Linked DNA regions of Homo sapiens: region 2 is linked to region 1. The links come from fine-mapping of genetic effects on gene expression. A gene starts in region 1. The other region holds a variant in brackets. All regions are shown on one strand. Distances are from middle to middle. Region 1 holds the start of ATP6V1C1 (ATPase H+ transporting V1 subunit C1). Region 2 overlaps ATP6V1C1 (ATPase H+ transporting V1 subunit C1).

Region 1 (10,786 bases):
GATTTAAATCACAGCAACTGAAGTAAGCTCAAATTGAGTTCTAAATATTCCTCTTTTTATAAGTCCCTTGTCATTTGTCTTTCTCTTTTCTCTTTCTTTCCTTCTCTTCCCTATGCCTCTCTCCCATCTCTTCATTCTCCAATTTCTGTTGCTTTTCAGTGGAAACTAGCTCAAGTTATTTCTTTGGTCTTTGCCTCCATTTAACCATACTCTCAGTTTTTCTTCCACCCTAGTGGAAGATATTAGTTTATCAAGGTATTTTCTTAAACAAGGACACTTAGTTTCCTAAGGGAAATGCCAGTAACAACTTTCAAGATATCTTGACTATTATACCAGAGTGAAAAAGAGTTCTGAATCCTGTTGCCCTATTTGCTTCAAATACTTTCTCCACTTTGTTTAACTAATGGATACTAGGCTTAATACCTGGGTGATGAAATAATCTGTACAACAAACCTCCTTGACACAAGTTTACCTATGTAACAAACCTGCGCACGTACCCCTGAACTTAAAATAAAAGTTAAAAAATATTTAAAAAATTAAAAAAAGAAAACAGTAATCAAAAAACAAAATAATTGGTTGCTGGTATGATTCCATCCTGCACAGCTGTTCTCTGGAGCGTGGTTGTTTACCTCTGCCTGGCTTCTCTCCTACCTAAGTGCTTGCCGCCACCCATGGAAGATTTGACGGACATGGACATCAGCCTCCTGAGGCCCCAGAACTATCTTTTTGGTTGTGACTAGAGGCCAACAAAGATTATCACTTTAAGGTGGATAATGATGAAAATGAGCACAAGTTATCTTTAAGAATGGTCAGTTTAGGGGCTGGTAGAAAGGATGGATTTTATATTGTTGAAGCAGAAGTAATGAACTATGAAGGCAGTCCAATTAAAGTAATACTAGCAACTTTAAAAAGGTATGTACAGTCAATGGTTTATCTTGGGGGCTTTGAAATAACATTGCCTGTGGCCTTACACTCAGTGTGTTTCAGGGCCTGGGCATATGAGTACACAGCACTTAACAGGTATGAAGGAAGATACAAAGCAGGACATGAAGAGGAGGGAGATGTGAGACTTTTCAGTATATCTGGAAAGTGATCTGCCCCTGGAAGTGGGTACATTTCTACAAGAAAAAAATAAAACTTCTTGCTGATGAAAATCATGATGATGATGAAGAGGAAGAACATTTTGATGAAGGGAAAACTGAAGAAAAAGCTCTAGTGATGAAATTTATACAGGATACTCCATCCAAAAAATGCACAAAGATCAAACCAAAATAAAAAAGACTCAGAACTATCAAGATTAAGACCAAAAGGTCAAGAATCCTTCAAAAACAGGGGGAAAAAACCTCTTAAAACACCAAAAGGACCTAGTTTTGTAGAATATATTAAAAGCAAAAATGCAAGCAAGTATAGAAAAAGTTGGTTCTCTTCCCAAAGCTAAGTGCATCAATTATGTGAAGAATTACTTCTGGATGACCAACTAGGAGGCTATTCACCATCTCTGGCAGTGGAAGAAGTCTCTTTAAGAACACAGTTTAGGCCAAGCGTGGTGGCTCATGCCTGTAACCCTAGCACTTTGGGAGGCCAAGGTGGGCAGATCACTTGAGGTCAGGAGTTCAAAACCAGCCTGGCCAACATGGTGAAACCTTGTCTCTCCAAAAATAAATAAATAAATAAATAAAAATACAAAAAATTTGCCAGGCGTGGTGGTGGATGCCTGTATTCCCAGCTACTTGGGAGGCTGAGACAGGAGAATCGCTTGAACCTGGGAGGCAGAGGTTGCAGTGAGCAGAGATCACGCCATTGCATTCCAGCATGGGCAACAGAGTGAGACTCTGTCTCAAAAAAAAAAAAAAATAGTTTAAACAGCTTGTTAAAATTTTCTTTCTTCTTTTTTTTTTTAAATCTTTTAACCCAATAGTTCTTTTAGAGAAAAAAATTACCTGTCATTTCGTTAATAGTTCTTTTAGAGAAAAAAATTATCTGTCATTTCATTTCTGTAACAGTTGATATCTAACTGTCCTTTTTACAATTCAGAGTGAGAAGTTCCCTAGCACGTTGGATAAATATTGTCCAGGTTCCATTGCCAAAAATGTGTTGTCCAAAATGCCCCTGTAGTTTTTAAAGATGAAACTCCATCGTTTGCTTGTTTTTTTTTTTGAGACAGAGTCTTGCTCTGTCACTCAGGCTGGAGGGCAGTGGCACTATCTTGGCTCACTGCAGCCTCTGGCTCCCAGGCTCAAGCAATTCTCCTGCCTCAGCCTCCCAAGCAGCTGGGATTACAGGCATGCACCACCACACCCAGCTAATTTTTGTATTTTTAGTAGAGATGGCATTTTGCCATGTTGGTCAGGAAGGTGTCAAACTCCTGGCCTCAAGTGATCTGCCCACCTCAGCCTCCCAAAGTGCTGGGATTACAGGTGTGAGCCACCACGCCTGGCTCTTTGCTTGGTTTTCAGTATATATGTATGTATGGAATATTATGATAGGACATAGTAGTAGCTGTGGTCAGACAAATGGAAATGGTGGGAAGACAAAAATATGTAACTGAAATAAGCTCAATATTTTAATAAAGGAAAAAATAAATTTTTTCCCCGGAAAAAGTTGTAAGAAAAAAATAAATCTTCTCCCATGCATCTTAGGAGTGCTTTAAACTTAGATGTTTGGAGATGAGTAGTCTTTAGATAGGTGGAAATGGAGGAAAAGGTGTGACATGCCCATGGCTACCTAGTATGCTTCTATGCATAGTACAGTTTTTAAAAAGTGAGTTGCTTCTCTGTAAAAACATATTACTTTACTATTAGAAACCACTGGAGAGCAATCATGCCCTGCTTATATTAAACATCTTTGCTAGATTTTTATTTGATTTTTTGAGATGGGGTCTTGCTCTGTTGCCCAGGCTGGAGTGTATGGTGCAATTTTAGCTCACTGCAGCCTCGAACTCCTGGGCTCAAGGGGTCCTCCCACCTCAGCCTCCCGAGTAGCTGGGACTATAGGCATGCACCACCATGCCCAGCTATGTTTCCTAAATTTTTAAGTGAGATACATTAAACCTCATAAAAATTAGAGCTAACATTTATTGAACACTCTGTTGTACTGCCTCCCAAGTATAACATGGTAATTAAAACACTGGAGGCCAGGCACGATGGCTCACCCCTGTAATCCCAGCACTTTGGGAGGGCCAAGTGGGCAGATCACTTGACCTCAGGACTTGGAGACCAGCTTGGCCAACATGAGGAAAACCCGTCTCTACTAAAAATACAAAAATTAGTTGGGTGTGATGGTGCACGCCTGTAGTCCCAGCTACTTAGGAGGGCAAGGCACAAGAATCGCTTGAACCCGGGAGGTGGAGTTTGCAGTGAGCTGAGATCGCACCACTGCTCTCCAACCTGGGCGACAGGGCGAGACTCCATCTCAAAAAAAACCCCAAAACTAAAAAAAAAACCCCAAATGTTGGAAAGTTGCGCGAGGTATAATTCAGTTTAGAAATTAAGAATCCAAGACAAAAAGTCTGCCTCAGGACCACACACAAGCACGAAGAAACCAAGATAGTTCAAGCATGGACCTTAAAACTGCACTGTCTAAGGCTGTTGTCACTGGTCTCATGTGGCTATTTAAATTTTAATTAAAGTGAAATAAATTTTAAAATTCAGTTACTAAGTCACACTAACCATATTTCAAGTGCTCAATGGCTCCATGTAGCTAGTGGGTACTGTACAGACAGCACAGGATAACATTTGCATCATGGCAGAAAGTTTTAGTGGACCTAACCAAAAAAAAAATGCCTTTAGGCTCATTTCGTGATGGCAGATAAAAGCCTCTGGAATTCTGATAAGTTTCTGAAGCCATGTTATAGAACTGGTTATTGTAATTGCATGAACTTCATCCAAAACTGGTGAAAGCGTCAGGTTGGGGATAGTCTGGTGGTTGTTACTTTCTGTCCAACCTAATACTGAGGCTCTGAGAAATTCTGTGGTGAATTTCTGTAGGGGGACACAGCAGAAAAGGCATAGTATAGGTCAGAAAACCTGGGTCCTATAATACATAGTAATAATGACGACCATTTACTGGTTGTTTCCTATGTACCAGGCACTGTGCTAACCACAGGCTTCATTTAATCCTCACAATACCTGTGTAAGGTATTATTACCACCACTTTGCATGTGAACAGGCTGAAATTCAGAGGAGTAAGGTCACACAACTAGTAAGTAGGAGAGCCTGGATTCAACACCTGGTATCTATTCCCTTGCGCTGAACAACTCCGTGCCCTCACTTTCTTCATCTGTAGATCTAAAAGGATTAAATTAGAACATCTCAAAATTTCTACTACTTCTAAAACTCTGTGTTCTAAATTAGGACATTACTATCTATCTCCCCAAGCTAATGAAATAAGCAGGGTTCCTGGGAGGAGCTTGTTACCTATTTTTCTCCAAAGGAGATGCTTTCCCCTGTCTATGCCTCTGTCCTAAAACCTTTGGTTTCCCACTATCTAATGTGGTTTCAACTATCTATGAGGCGCTTTCGTGGCAAGGAGTGATTCTCTCCAGTAGGCAATCCTAAGAACGAGCGCAGTGCTTGGCGCACAGTAAATGCTCCATGGACCATTTATGAAATTAAGTCTAAGTGGACTTCAGGAAAATGTGAATCTGCTAAAATGAACTACTAGCCAGTATACTAGGTAGAAAACCCAGCTGACGAAGAAAACCCCAAGTGGAGAAGCCCTTGTAGGGGGTTGGAGACAATTTCTGACCCGCAGAAACCTGCAGTGGCGCTGACGTTTACAAGTGGTGGACAAAACGCCACTTGCAACACTGGAAGAAGCGGAAAACCCCACCCACTCTGGAACAACAGCGATCAGCCCCGAATATAGGGTCCCCTTGCCGCCCCGTAGCCTCCTAGTCCCGCCCCTCTCCCAAGGCCCGGCAGTGGCAGCGGCTGCGGCTGCGCAGTGGCGCGGGCGTAGGCGGAGCAGCGCGCGCCGCGGTCAGCTGACTGCTGGGCTGGCACGTGACTTGTTCTGTGTTCGCTTGGGTAGAGGAAGCCGTGAGGCCGGAGCTTAGGTCGGGAAGGGATGGATCGCTGAGCCGATAGCGTCCGCTAGGCTGTCTGCCTCGGTACCTGTTACTGCTGCTACTTCCTCGTTTGACACCTTCCTGGGTCAGTGAGCGATGGCTCTCCCCGGATGGGGAGTCCTGGTCAGGCCGAAGCATGAGCTCCGGTCGCTGCCTGGGAGGGACGCGGGTGGGTGCGGGGGCAGAGACCGTGGCGTTGGAGCTGGAGCTGGCTGGGTGGCTGTGTCTGGTTTCTCGGCGCCAATTCACCGTCTTGGGCCTAGGTTCCGTCTCTAAGGAAGAGAAGGAGGGAAAAAGAGAAAGAGCTCTCGTGGGTAGTTAATGACAGGCAGAAAGGAGAGATACAGCGGTCTGGGATCTTTCTTCTTGGGTAGGAATGCACGCCGCCTGATTGATTGAGGGGAATGAAGTGATAGGTCCAGGTGAGGCTATGGAGTGGTGTGTGTGAGGTCACAGCTAGCGCAAGTGCCTTCACTGGGTGTGTGTTGGGGGGGGCGCGGGTGTCGGGGGTCGGGGGTGGTGGGATGACAGTTTAAAGGCCTAGGAGCCCCTAACTGCAGGCAAGGAACCCTCACAGAGTACACAAGGTCCCTCTAGGAATGAGAAAGAACAGGAATCCAGAGAACTCAACTATTTTTTAGTAGAATGGGGGAGGGTAGGCAAACAAAACAGAACAAAACAAAACAAACCCCTAGAAAAGAACTTGGTGAGAGTCACATAAGGCATATTGAATCACTTGAGAAACAGGAGTAAGGGGGAAGCTAGTATTCTTTTCAGAGGAAAATTCTGGTATGTTAGGGAAAAATCACATGCTTCAGTGCGAGCCCAGTACTTAGCGCCGCTCTGGGAATGGAACGGGTGGGATGTGAACAGTCTATCCTTAGGAGTTAGCACTAACGTTGGAGAGAAAAGTCTACACACAGGACACGTTAAAATACGATGCAGTTTATGTATACTTACCAAAAAGAGAATGCGAAGTGCTTTGAAAGTGTGGAGCAACGACACATGTGTAAACTGGCACTATGGGAAGATATTCTGGAGGAAAGAAAACTTGAGTCTTGGCAAGCCCTCAGGATTTGAACAGGTTGAGAGAAATGGGGATAATTTTACAGGCAGGGAAAGCCACAGGATTTGAAAGCCTGAAGATGGGGGTAGGGAATGCTTCTGGTGGAGTCAGAAGTAGCTTTTACAGTGGATTGCACTGCGGAGAAGTGGGAAAGAAAGTTGGGAGTCAGGTAACGAGGACTTTTGAATGGTAGTCGTTTACTTATTCATGCAAATAATGTGTACTGAATACATGCTGTATGCAGGTACAGTGCTGATGGTAGGGTTTAGAAAATTGTCTTTATAGAGCTTACAGGCAAGCAGAGGGGATGGATTTTAAAAATCAAGCAAGCGTGAAATGTGCTTTGAAGGAATAACAGTGGTATGAAAGAGTGTAGTAGGGGCATGTGTATTATGGAAGATTTTAAAAAGGCATTGCTAAGAATATGACTTTTTAAAGATTAAAACAATTTTATTTATATTCTTCATACCCTCTCGCTCTGAGAGGGTATGACTTTTGACCTGAGATCTGAAAAGAGACTGAAAAGGGAATGTGAAGGTGTGAGTGAAAAGAACATTCCAGGCCTGGCAGGGTGGCTCGTGACTATAATCCCAACATTTTGGGAGGCTGAGGTGGGAGGATTGCCTGAGGCCAGGAGTTCAGGACCAGCCTGGGCAACATAGTGAGACCACCGTCTCTACCAAAAATAAAAAAATAACTAGCTGGGAGTGGTGGTGTGTGCTTGTAGTCCTAGCTGCTCGGGAGGCTGAGGCGAGAGGATCATTTGAGCCCAGTAGTTCGAGGCTGCAGTGAGCTGTGATCATGCCACTGCACTCCCTCCTGGGAAACAGAGCTAGACCCTGTCTCTGAAAAACGAAAAAGGAACATTTCAGGCTGAAGCAACAGCGTATGTCAAGGCCCTGAAATGTGAAGAGGAAGAAAGCTTTTCAGCCTTTTTGAAAGGCTAGCATGGCTGAAACGGGGAGGGAGAGAGGCAGGTGGAGAAAGCTGGGGTCACGCCAAGCAGAGCTTTTATTCTAAAAACAGAGGGAAGCCAGTGAAGATTACAGGCAGTGGATTGAGACAGGTTGTGGCTTTTTTTTTTTTTTTTTGGTGGGGGGGAGATAATGTGGAGGGTGGCAAAAGTGAATGAGGGGAGACCCGCTCAGGGGAACATTGTTGTAATCCACTGAAGGATTTGAAGACAAGATACCTTCTCTCTCCACTGAGGACTTCAGAATGTTTAACTGTATTCACTTTTAGAGGGTTCAGGACTTGGGGAAGGGAAAGAATGATTCGATTCTATTTGTACCCTTCACAGGGTAGTCGTAACTACCCTCGAGGCAGTCCTGAAGTACATAGCAGAGGCTCTTTTGCAAAAATTTGTTTTGGCTTTTCAAATTTATCCTTTTGTAAGGTCATCTATTTCAGAATATCTTTTATTGAAATATAGTTACAGGGAGGGATCACTTTCATATTTATTTTGTTCTCACAGTTCTTTGAAAGACAGTGGATGAAAATGCTATTCATTGTATAGATGGGAACCTGGAGCTAGAGAAACACGTAAAGTGATTTGGCTGAGTCCGGAGTAACTGCCACAGTTTTCTGACTGCTGATGTATTCCTGCTGATTACCTACACAGTACTAACCACAGTCACATCTAGAGAAAAGGGCGAGTTTTTTGAAGTGCACAGTAGTCTTTGATTCAGCATTTTTTTTTGGGGGGGGGGAACTTCTCCCTGAAGAGTCAGCACTTTTGATGAACTTTTTCTAGTAGAACAGCTTCAAAGGAATTGGCAGTGGTGGGCTATGTCTTATCTATAATCTTGGATAGAGCTGTTCAATTTACAGTTCATCTGGAGGAAATAATGAACAATAAGGTGAACTGAAAGTGCTCAGGTTGTCAATCACAGTTCTTTGGCAAAAAGTGAGTCTCAAATTATGCTGAAGACTGAGCCTCAGGGTTCTGTCTCAGAAGTCCTGGATCTTTTTCTCTTTTGGTATACCTTGTAGGGACTAGATAAAATCTAAAGAAACAGTACTCAGGATCTAACTAAATGCTGAGAGCTAGATAGTGTAATTCAGCTTTTAAAACTTGGCACAAAATACTCATTTTTATTTTTTTGGTATATTAGTCTTAGGAGCCTCATGTACATTAGTTTTTTCAACCTAAAAAGAAACTTCAGGGCTTCAAAAATCTGATTTTGTGATTATTTCCACAACTCACGAGATAATACCATTGGCCAACTGGAATGCCAAAGTAAACCTTTGCCAAAGGTCTCCATGTAGTTTACCCGTCCCTAAGCAGCAAGTCTTCTTTTGAACTTGGTTCTGCTTAGGAGTACTACAGTTTTGACTGAGTACCTCCTACTTAAAATTTTGCTCTTGTACATATTTAAATCTGTCTACAGGTTACATCTTTTTCACTCTTTGGGTGTGGAATTATATATCATTTATAAATTAATTCATGTTAGATTTCCATTTTTCATCAATTTTTAAAGACAGACATAGTATAAACATTAGCATAGTGCCCTTGGGACGCTTAGGCAGTGAACCAAGGCAGTCTAAAATTTCCTATTGACATGAGTGATTCTTGGAACTAGAAATTTCAAACTATATTCTTGATGCTGAAACAAAATTTTTTATCCAGCAGGACATCTACTTCTAAGATTATACCATGTGCAAATGTACTATGCGTTTATTGAGTTAAAAAAATGAGCCAGGTAGGCAGTGGAGGAGAGGTGCTTTGGTTACTATGCATTTATTGAGTTAAAAAATGAGCCAGGTAGGCAGTGGAGGAGAAGTGCTTTGGTTACATCGGGGATAAAAGAGTATTAACTGTATATCTAAAATGTGGGGTGTGTGTGTGTGTGTCTGTGTGAGTATGTGTGTGTATTTGAAAATAAAATGCTAGGTAAGTGATGTTTTATAGAAAGGGATCGATGGATCTTCTAAGATATTTTAAACAGACTATCAATGAATAGGAAGTTGTAAATTAAGGCGTGTTAACAGGTGGTTTAACTTTACCATGAAAGGTTTTCCTTTTGAATCAGCCCATAGTTTAGTGTTTCTATGTGGGTGCTATTGGCAGTTTGGAGGTCTGTTTCGCCCCTACCCACTAAATGCTGATTAGCGATCTCCACATTGGGACAACCCAAAATGCTCCCATACATTTCCAGACTCCTCCTGGAGGAGAGAGGCACCATTTGGTGCAAAACATGCATGTGGTGTCAGTTTATTTGTTGGACAAATATTAAGATGTTGAGGTTACAGAGGTTAAAAGTAATATTTTAATAAACTGCATATAATGGAATTCAAGTAATTTAAAATCTAGTGTTTGATGTTTTAATGTAACTCCTTTAGTGTAAAATTACTGAAACTATATCCTAATATTTCTTTGAGGCACTTGTCTTTTGTAAAACTGCATGAATAACTCAAATAGAGTCCCCTTAATCCCAATAAAATGTAGTCACTAAATGTCTTTGGGCAACTAATTTCACCAGCTGTTCCCTCATTTGCAAGTGGGGGTGGTGATAACACATCTTGTGAGGGAATTAAATACAAAATTGCTTTAGTAGATGCAAGTGCTTATCACTGGGCACAACATGTGGTACATATTCAGTGATAGTTGTTACCAGTAAACAGAATCTCAAGCTTACTTAGGGTCATGAGTTGGAGAAAACTAATCTTAAAGTCTTTAAGTTGGTGAATTTCAGGCCAAAATACATTGTATTGGAGATATCAGCACCTTCTAGCAGAATGTGGTACCGTGGTCCAGTCACTATTATAAATTGCCAGCCATGAAGAAAAGGGAAGTCATGTTTTGGGAGCCATGAGTGTAGATTCAGGGAATCCCCTGGCATGGAAGGAATTATTTGCCCACTGGGTCACCGCTGAGTTGCCTGTGCAGAGGAGGAGTCTCTAGAAGCTGAGAAGGTTTTGGTGATTACTTGCAGTAATGGGTGTACGACAGGGCCCTCCTGGCCATGTCTGCCAATTCAGTAGCTTTACCAGAAGTTACTAGAAATTTTCCAACATTGTATTATGTATTACATCCCCAGCCCCCACTCCACAATGTCACAGTGTGTTTCCAGTTTTTGTGATAGGTATCTGTGTGAAAGTAAGGCTTTGCTTTTACAGATTGCTTTCTAGGCAAATGTGGAATAAAAAAATTGTAGTTGATAAAATGAGTCTAATAAAGATTAAATTGCCTTTCATATTTAAGTATATTTATGGCAAGAAATTATGGTAGTTTTAATAGGATTATAGAGCATTTATGGGTATTGTTTCCATTGAAAACAAAACACGGAATATTTAAGATTTATTTAAGAAAGGCGGGGCTGGGTGTGGTGGCTCACGCCTGTAATCCCAGCACTTTGGGAAGCGGAGGCAAAGGGCGGGCGGATCACTTGATGTCAGGAGTTCAAGACCAGCCTGGCCAACATGGTGAAACCCTGTCTCTACTGAAAATACAAAAAATAGCTGGGCATGGTGGCTCGTGCCTATAATCCCGGCTACTCAGGAGGCTGAGGCAGAAGAATCGCTTAAACCCAGGAGGCAGAAGTTACAGTGAGCCGAGATCGCGCCAGTGCACTCCAGCCTGGGCAACAGAGTGAGACTCCGTCTCCAAAAAAAATAAAAAGGCATATTTTCTGACAGTTTTAAAATCTCAT
Region 2 (8,000 bases), 39 kb after region 1:
GGCCAGTGAGGTATTAATAGTTTGCCCAGGATCACACATCTCATTTGTGGCAGGGCTAGAACTAGAACCTAGGTCTTTGGTGTGGTACTTTTTCTGCCTCACTGTGCTGCCTTTTGAAAATTCTTTATTCATTATTGCATACCTACTATGTGTCTATAATTCCTCATTTTACTTGGCAAAGGAAGTGTACCAGAATGGCTACTGGACTGCCGTGTTGATCTCCAGATGTTCACCATCACTTTGAGCTTAGATTTTACCTAATTTGTGTGTTCCTTTTATTTAAAAAACAAACCTGTTTTTATTAAGCACTTTTTAAATTTATAGATTTAACATGCATTGTCTAATTTGAAATTTACAACAAGTCTGTGAAGAAGTATGGACAGTTATCATTCTTATTCTCAAGGAAGAAGAAGTTAAAATGCTTAAATAGTTGCCTGAGGCATATGGCTGTGTAAAGTGTCCAATGGCAGAGTTAGGGCTAGAACTCACATCTTTTAGCTCCAGGTCCTGTACCCTTTTAACACTATTCCATGTCATTTTTCTGTGTTCTGCCATTGCCACACCAGATATTCTTTGAGAAAATATAAATACAGTGTATCTCCACCCCAAAGGATTCTTATAGATATATATGTGCTTCAAGGGGAGGCAGCAGGGTGGAAGATATAGGAGGCAGTAAAGAAGTGGAATTAGTAAGGTCAGGCCCATGAAATATTTTCTTTTCCAGTTTCATTGTGTCATGTGGGAAGTAGCTTAGTATGATGGAAAGAGTCCTGGACTCAGGGATCTGAGTTCTATTGCTGGTTCTGTCACCAGTAGAGTCTGTCACTGGTAGGGTCCGTCACTGGTAGGGTTGTGACTTCGAGTTGTCCAGGTTCTTGGTGTTTTGAACAAAAAATTGGACAAAATGCCCAGCAAAGCAAAATAAGAATGAAGCAACAAAAGAACGAAAGCAGGGATTTATTAAAAATGAAAGAAAGTACACTCCACAGTGTAGGAGCAGACCTGAGCAGTGGCTCAAGGGCCTGGATACAGAATCTTCTTGGGTCCAAATAACTCCTACAAGTTTCCCATTGGCCACTTCATGCTCACCTCATGTAAATGACGTGGTAGCCTGCAGTGAGCCTCATTGGTTGCAGAAAGCAGCCAACCAGAGGCTGAAGTGAAGTTACAAAGGTCACACTCCTGTGCAAATATCTGATTGGTTGCAGAAGGCAACTAATCAGAGGCTAGGGTGAAGTTACAAAGTTATACTTCTATGCGAATGAAGACTCGGCCTCCCAATCAGTCTGATTTGTTGCAGACAGCCAATTTCCCATCTGCCATGCAGGAAAGGTCAAAAGGAGTAGCCTCTGGTCCTTTTGTTACTTAGGCGTGGAAAGTTAGGGTTTTCCTTTCAATTTAGTTCTAGGAAACCGGGGTGAAACAACCTTAGGTTCCCTGCCTCCAGACCCTATTTCCTGCCTCAGTTCTGCTACCAACTTGCTGTGTGACCTGGGGTAAGTCTTTTAACTTCTCTGGGCCTCATTTTCTTTGTCTGTAAATGGAGCATAGCACCTTCCTTGTATATATTATGAAGTTATTTTAAGACTTAATGGAGTATTCAAAATACAAGATAATGTTACTGTATTTTCACAAATGTTGATCTTTTAGGAACTTAACAACAAACTTGTGCTCATCATGAATGTTTTTTTTTTCATTTGGAGGAATATCTTTCCTTCATACCAGCTCTTCACATGGTAAACTGAAGACTACAGTTGTGTCTTGATATTGATGGCTCACTTAGGCTGTTGATACTGACAGATCTTTAGGGCATTAGAGCCGTAGAGGTTGACTCTGTGTCTAGGAGGCAGGTAGAGGAGGAGAGTGAGGACGTGGTGCACCCAGAATGTCCTCCAGAGATGGACATACGCCAACCCAGATGTCCAGGGGGATGGTCTGTAGGCTCATTAAGTAAGCTCAGATTTACTCTGATAGAAAGACTTTAAAAATATTCCATCAGAGATTTAGATCTTTGGACAGTCACTTTAGTAGTTTAAAGGGCAAATTTCAGGAAGGGAACAGTTTAATGCAGTCAAGACTTGTTTGCAAGTGACTTGTAAGTGCACACTAATCTTCCGAGAGCTTCCAGCCTTTCCTTGCTCAGTGAAAACATCTTTTCTACCTATTTCTCAGTTCAAAGTACATTTGGAATCACTGACTCAAAAACTTACCTGTTTAAATTTAGTCAGAGAGAACATAGCACTAGCTCAAATAGCACCATCAAGAGTATGTGCAGTTCATGTAGGGGCAAATAGGCTTTTTTGAGTGAGCCTGGAATATTGTCTGCCATTTAGGAAAGATCTCTATGACCTGATGCTGAATTTTTGGCTTATCATCACAACCAGCATTTTTGAGTAATTACTGTGAGCTAGTCTTTGTTCTATGTGCTTTACACAAGTTAATTAATTATAGGTAGTAACACATTACTTTTTGGTATGATAACTTGAGTGATTATTGTTGGGAGCAGTGAAGATGAAAGTGGAATTTTGAGGTAGATTGAAAAATATTCACTTTAATATTCAATCTAATATTTTTCAATCTATTCTTCTAACTGTCCTCAAACCTGAAAGAATTTTAAAGTTCACAAAATATAACTATTTATAAAATATTCTACAAAGATTGGACGGTTTTGAAATACTACCATTGCTGTGAGGCTAAATGCAGCAATGTGTATAAATGCCATGCCAAGGCTGTGGCCAAAGAAGTGGAGGCTGTGCTGCTGTTCTGCTTTTTTTTGTTGAAACACTGTTCAGAAAGAGGTGCTTTTCACTTGTCCTTTCAGAATTACCACTTTCCTATTTTTTTTTTTTTTGTCTGCTTTTGCTTGTTAAAATAGTCTGATTGAGTCAGATCACTGGTTAACTTTTGCCTTTTCTCTGTCATTGGAAGCAACATCACAAACTCATGGATGCTTCACAGAGGTTTTTCTTTAGGGATCTGGAGTCCCCAGTGAAGCAGAGGAGCCTAGCTAAGAAGTGCAGGAAGAATGATACTGGCCACTGTCCAGAAGTTTCTCTATGTTTCAGAGTTTCTGAGGGAGATGGTCTGTTCTCCTGTCAGTACCACTTCAACCACACCCATGGCTCTAGCCTCACCTGCAGTTTTCGGACTGCTAAATCTTCGTCTGTAGCCAGCCTTCCCCCCAACCACATACCTGGTTCCTACTGGACCACTCCATGTGGTATTTCCTAGGTAACTGACACTATCACCCCAATCTCAGACTCAAACTCTCTAGTTGCCCTGTAGTATATGGCAGCAACATCTGCCCAGTGATCCAAACCGCAAGTGTGGTAGTCAGTGATTTTGGAATCTTCCTTTGCCCTTGCACCCCCCTCCCCCCACCGGCCCCCCACCTGAAATAGTCTAATCAGTTATGTCATTTCCACCTTCCATAGTATTTGGTTGAACCGTTAAAAATTGATGTTTTGTAGGTCAGAAAATGGTCAAATATCTACAATTTCATAGGGTTAAATCTACTCTCCCCACTCCCCCAAGACCCACTGCCACTGCTCCAGCTCTGACTCCCTCATCCCTTGCCTGGACCATGGTAATTGACCCTAGCTGGTCTCCTTTTCTCCTCTCATCAGTCCTCCACATTGCTGCTGTTTTCATCTTTGTGACATACAAATGTGTTGCTTTCCCGTCTAAAACCCTGCTTGTCCCTCCCCATTTTGACTGCCTGCCCCCAGCA[C/A]GCACACACACACACACACACCCACACACCCACACACCCTCTTCTTGTACCCTATGTCCCAGCCATATATGTATATATATATTGTTTTTCTTTCTTTCTTTTTTTTTTTTTTTGAGACACAGTCTCTCTCACCCAGGCTGGAGTGCAGAGGTGTGATCTTGGCTCACCGCAACCTCTGCCTCCCGGGTTCAAGTGAGTCTCCTTCCCCAGCTTCCCAAGTAGCTGGGATTACAGGCATGTGCCACCACACTCAGCTGATTTTTGTATTTTTAGTAGAGGTGAGGTTTCACTATGTCGGCCAGACTGGTCTCGAGCTCCTGACCTCTAAGTGATCTGCCTACCTTGGCCTCCCAAAGTGCTGGGATTACAGGCATGAGCTACCATGCTGAGCCCCGGTTATACTTATTTCTGGCAATTCCTCAGATGCACCATGTTATTCCACATCTATATTCATTTGCATATGGGGTTCTGTCTGGAACGTTCTTCTCTTTTTTGTCTTTCTTTCAAACTTCCACCTGGTATCACCACTTTGGTGAAACTCCTTTGAATCCCCTCAGATAAAGTTACTAATTCCCCAGTGTATCATGTATATTTTCTATTGCAGCACTTACAACTCTATATTGCAGTTACTTGTGTATGCCTGTTTCCTTTACTAAACCCATACCTGGAGATCAGGAAATGCTGTCTTAGTTTTATACTAATATCTAGCAAGTGCTTGCATTACAGAGTCTCAGTACATGTTAAATGACTACAAGTCTGTTATAGTAAGGACTCGTGGTTTATTTTTTAAACAGTTTTAAGAAATACCTTTCCTTAGGGGAAAGAGGGAAAGCAAGTGGCTTTTATTTGTTTTTCATAATAAGGTGGCATAGTAGGATTTAGTTATAAGATAAGATGGAGGTTTTATCTTGGCTTTTTTCACCATCAGGATTTTGAGTAAGCCATAGGAATTTGCTGTGTCCCAGATCTCTGCACAATAGCTAGGAACCTGCTTAATAGGTAACCTGTTCATTGACACAGGGCCATGTCAAGCACCAAATGCTTTTGGAAGGGTCTTCAAAACAGCAAAGTGTTGGATAAGTTTAAAAGATTACTATGATAACAGTAAAACATTATTTGTGGCCCTGAAATAGCCTGTCAAGTTAGATTTGGATTTGTTTTGATCTCAAGCAGTTCACACATCACTGAGTAAATCTTGGCAAAGCAGAAGATCCTTAAACGGTTTTTTAAATCGAGCTCTGTCCACTTGGTAGCTGCCCTTCATTGGGTTTGATGGACACCAGGAGCAAGAATTAAGGGTAATCATTTTGAGAAGATACAGTTTAACAGGAGGTTCTAAATCCAGAGTACTTGAGTTTTCTCTGCATGTCAGCGATTACAGTGATCAGTACTCCTGGAGGTGTCTGCTGGTCATACACTAGGGAGGTGCCCCTGCTGGCTGGCTGACGAGGAGTAGGGTAGATTCAGTACTTAAAGCCATTCTGTGATTAACACTGTAATTGCCTCCTGAATTTACTTGGCTAAACAGGTGGTTCTTAGGCTTCAGGAAAAACTACACTTGCTTTAAACATTTTTTTAATATAGTATCTTTAAATTCCCCAGCATTCCTCCATTTTGTAAAATTTCCTTTTTCTGATTTCAGAAGTACCACATTGTAAAACTGAACATTAAAAAACAAAGAAAACAACCAACAAAAGGGCACAAGGACCCTTTTGGTAGTGAGGGGTATGTTTATTGTCTAGATTGTGGTGATGGTTTCATGGGTATATGCGTATGTCCACACTTCAGATTATAGACATTAAATGCGTACAGTTTTCTGTATAACGATTATATCTCAGTAAAGCTGTTTAAAAAACACTAAACATTAGAAGAACTCCAGTATGTGAAAGACAGAAAGGAGAAGAGATTCCCCTCAGTAACATTCCCCTGCCCCAAGGTTATCGCTGTGGAACAGCTGCCTGTGCAGCCTTGTGGACCTCACATAAGGACTTCTATACAGGAGGCACTATAGGTAAATTCTGAAAGCCAAATTTGGACCATACTATCACAAGCGATACCATTCACCTTTCAAACAGTGGACTTTCACCCAAGGTATTACAGATTTAAATGACCATTAAAATTACCTGGCAGTTGTGTCTGGAAAGGTCTTTCTAGTGATGTCCATGGAGCTGTGACTGAATGGAAGTTCTGACCTCACTGGGACCTTCTAAAGCCTAAAATGGAGCCATGAGATGCATACAGGCACTTTTATTCAGAGATTATTTAGACAGTTGTGTTCATCAGGGTTTTTTTTTTTTTTTTTTTTTTTTTTTTTGACAGGGACTCACTCTGTCACCCAGGCTGGAGTGCAGTGGTGCAATCTCAGCTCACTGTAGCCTCAACCTCCCCAGCTCCAGTGATCCTCCCACCTCAGCCTCCCGAGTAGCTAGGACTACAGGCATGCACCATCACGCCTGGCTAGTTTTTGTATTTTTTGTACAGACACAGTCTTGCCATGTTGCCCAGGCTGGTCTCAAAGTCCTGAACTCAAGCAATCACCCACCTCAGCCTGCCAAAGTGTTGGGATTACAGACATAAGCCACTGCACCCAGCCTGTCAGTTTTTGATTGAGAGATGTCATGGGAGCAAAGGAAAGATCCAAGGTTTAAGGTACTGGCAATGCAGAGAGGCTAGGCTGGGCATCAGTGGGGCTGAGTTGGCCTGGAGAAAGGAAGAAAGAATTAGGCTTCCAGAAAAGAAGAGTGTGCTTATCAAGGAGACACTGGAAACAAAGCAGCTTGGCGCTGATGTTGATTGAAAAGTGTGGTTCTTAGCGTTTGGATGCTTTACTGGAGTTAATGTCTAATTTTGTTGGTTAGTAAGAAATAAATGTAGAGTGTTAAGGTATCATAAGCAAAATAAATCATAAACATTCAGTATCTTCGGTGTTTGAGGCAATCCAGATTGAAAAGCATTGAGGTGATTTGGGAAGGGCTATTATACCCTACTTTTCTCTTCCACCTGTTTCTGAATTTTGCCCTTAATATGAAAGACAGCAATACGTATAAATCTTTAAATGGACTTTTTTTTTTTCCATAGTGTTCTTTCAGAGGACCAAGACAGTTACCTGTGTAATGTCACCTTGTTTAGGAAGGCAGTTGATGACTTCAGACACAAAGCCAGAGAAAACAAGTAAGATTATTGTTTTTTTGTTTATTTACTTTGTTAGATCAGCTGTATACAATGTGAACAATTTTGTTTTTTTTCCCCCAAATTTAGATTCATTGTTCGTGACTTCCAGTATAATGAAGAGGAGATGAAAGCAGATAAAGAAGAAATGAACAGGCTTTCTACTGATAAGAAAAAACAATTTGTATGTGTTTTTAATATTTAGTATTATCAGTACTAAGCAGAAGAAAAAGTGGTATTGCTTTCCTTTGATTTAAAAGAAAGTAAAAATCTGCTTTGGTTTTAAGACATTTGATTTTAGTTTTTTTTTTTAATTGAATAATCAGAATGAATTTCCTCTAAAGCTTAACTGTTCTAGAGATAACTATTCTATTTCTAAGAAAGCTTTCTTCTAAAGCTTATGTCTATCTGAGATAGAATAGAGTAGATAGAATAGTTATCCTAAAATACATACTTAAAAAGAAATTACTCCACCTAAATCCATATCAGACATTAATTTTAAATGCAGTATTCTGGTTAACATCCTTGTAGGTGAAGGGTGATTTTAGTTAAGTAACGAAGTTCTTTTCAGTAAGACTTTTCACTTTCTTGAGGCAGATTTTTTCAATGCCTCAATCTTTTATTGAAGCAATTTGTATTTAAGCTATTGGAGAATTGGTGTGTTCTAGGTGTAATGGGAAACGAGTGGAATTGTGAAAATCAAAGATGGTGTTAACTTTCTTGCCATCTTCAAGTGTGGGATTACTGTGAAGACTAAAAGCTTGTTTGGAAAGGGAAACATAATGAGTGAAAATGTGTTTCTCTTAATAATGTAAGAGGAAATTAAGGGAAATATTGAAAATTATTTCCAAGTACTTTATAAGCCATATCATCTCAACTAGGAGGAAACTCATTCTAACCAAGTAATGTCAAAATAACCAGCTTTTTAGGGCAAACCCAAAATCCTTTTAAAAAATAGATATTTTGACAAGATTTTCACTTGTTTTGCTATCCTTTTGCTTAAATTAATTGTTTGGTACATCCAAATGAGCCTAATAATGTTATCCAAGGAAGTGTTAGCTGAATCTTTTAAGTATGGAGAGAGGAGGTATTTGAAATCCGC

What was found. PIP is the estimated chance that this variant, and not a neighbour inherited with it, causes the effect. A credible set is the group of variants that fine-mapping cannot tell apart.
Region 2: its variant is the best candidate, but not a certain one, in a credible set for the expression of ATP6V1C1 in whole blood (TOPMed, PIP 0.75).

The regions. Positions count from the first base shown.
Region 1 is chr8:103,016,073-103,026,858 of GRCh38, forward strand. ATP6V1C1 (ATPase H+ transporting V1 subunit C1) reads left to right here and starts at 5,011. Exons shown (of 13, transcript NM_001695.5): 1 at 5,011-5,153. It also overlaps the pseudogene NPM1P52. RefSeq lists an enhancer at 5,241-5,450.
Region 2 is chr8:103,056,147-103,064,146 of GRCh38, forward strand. It overlaps ATP6V1C1 (ATPase H+ transporting V1 subunit C1), which reads left to right. Exons shown (of 13, transcript NM_001695.5): 9 at 6,809-6,901; 10 at 6,989-7,082. Among named protein-coding and RNA genes, the nearest start is that of ATP6V1C1, 39 kb to the left of the region's middle. The variant C/A (reference allele first, on the strand shown) is at 3,731.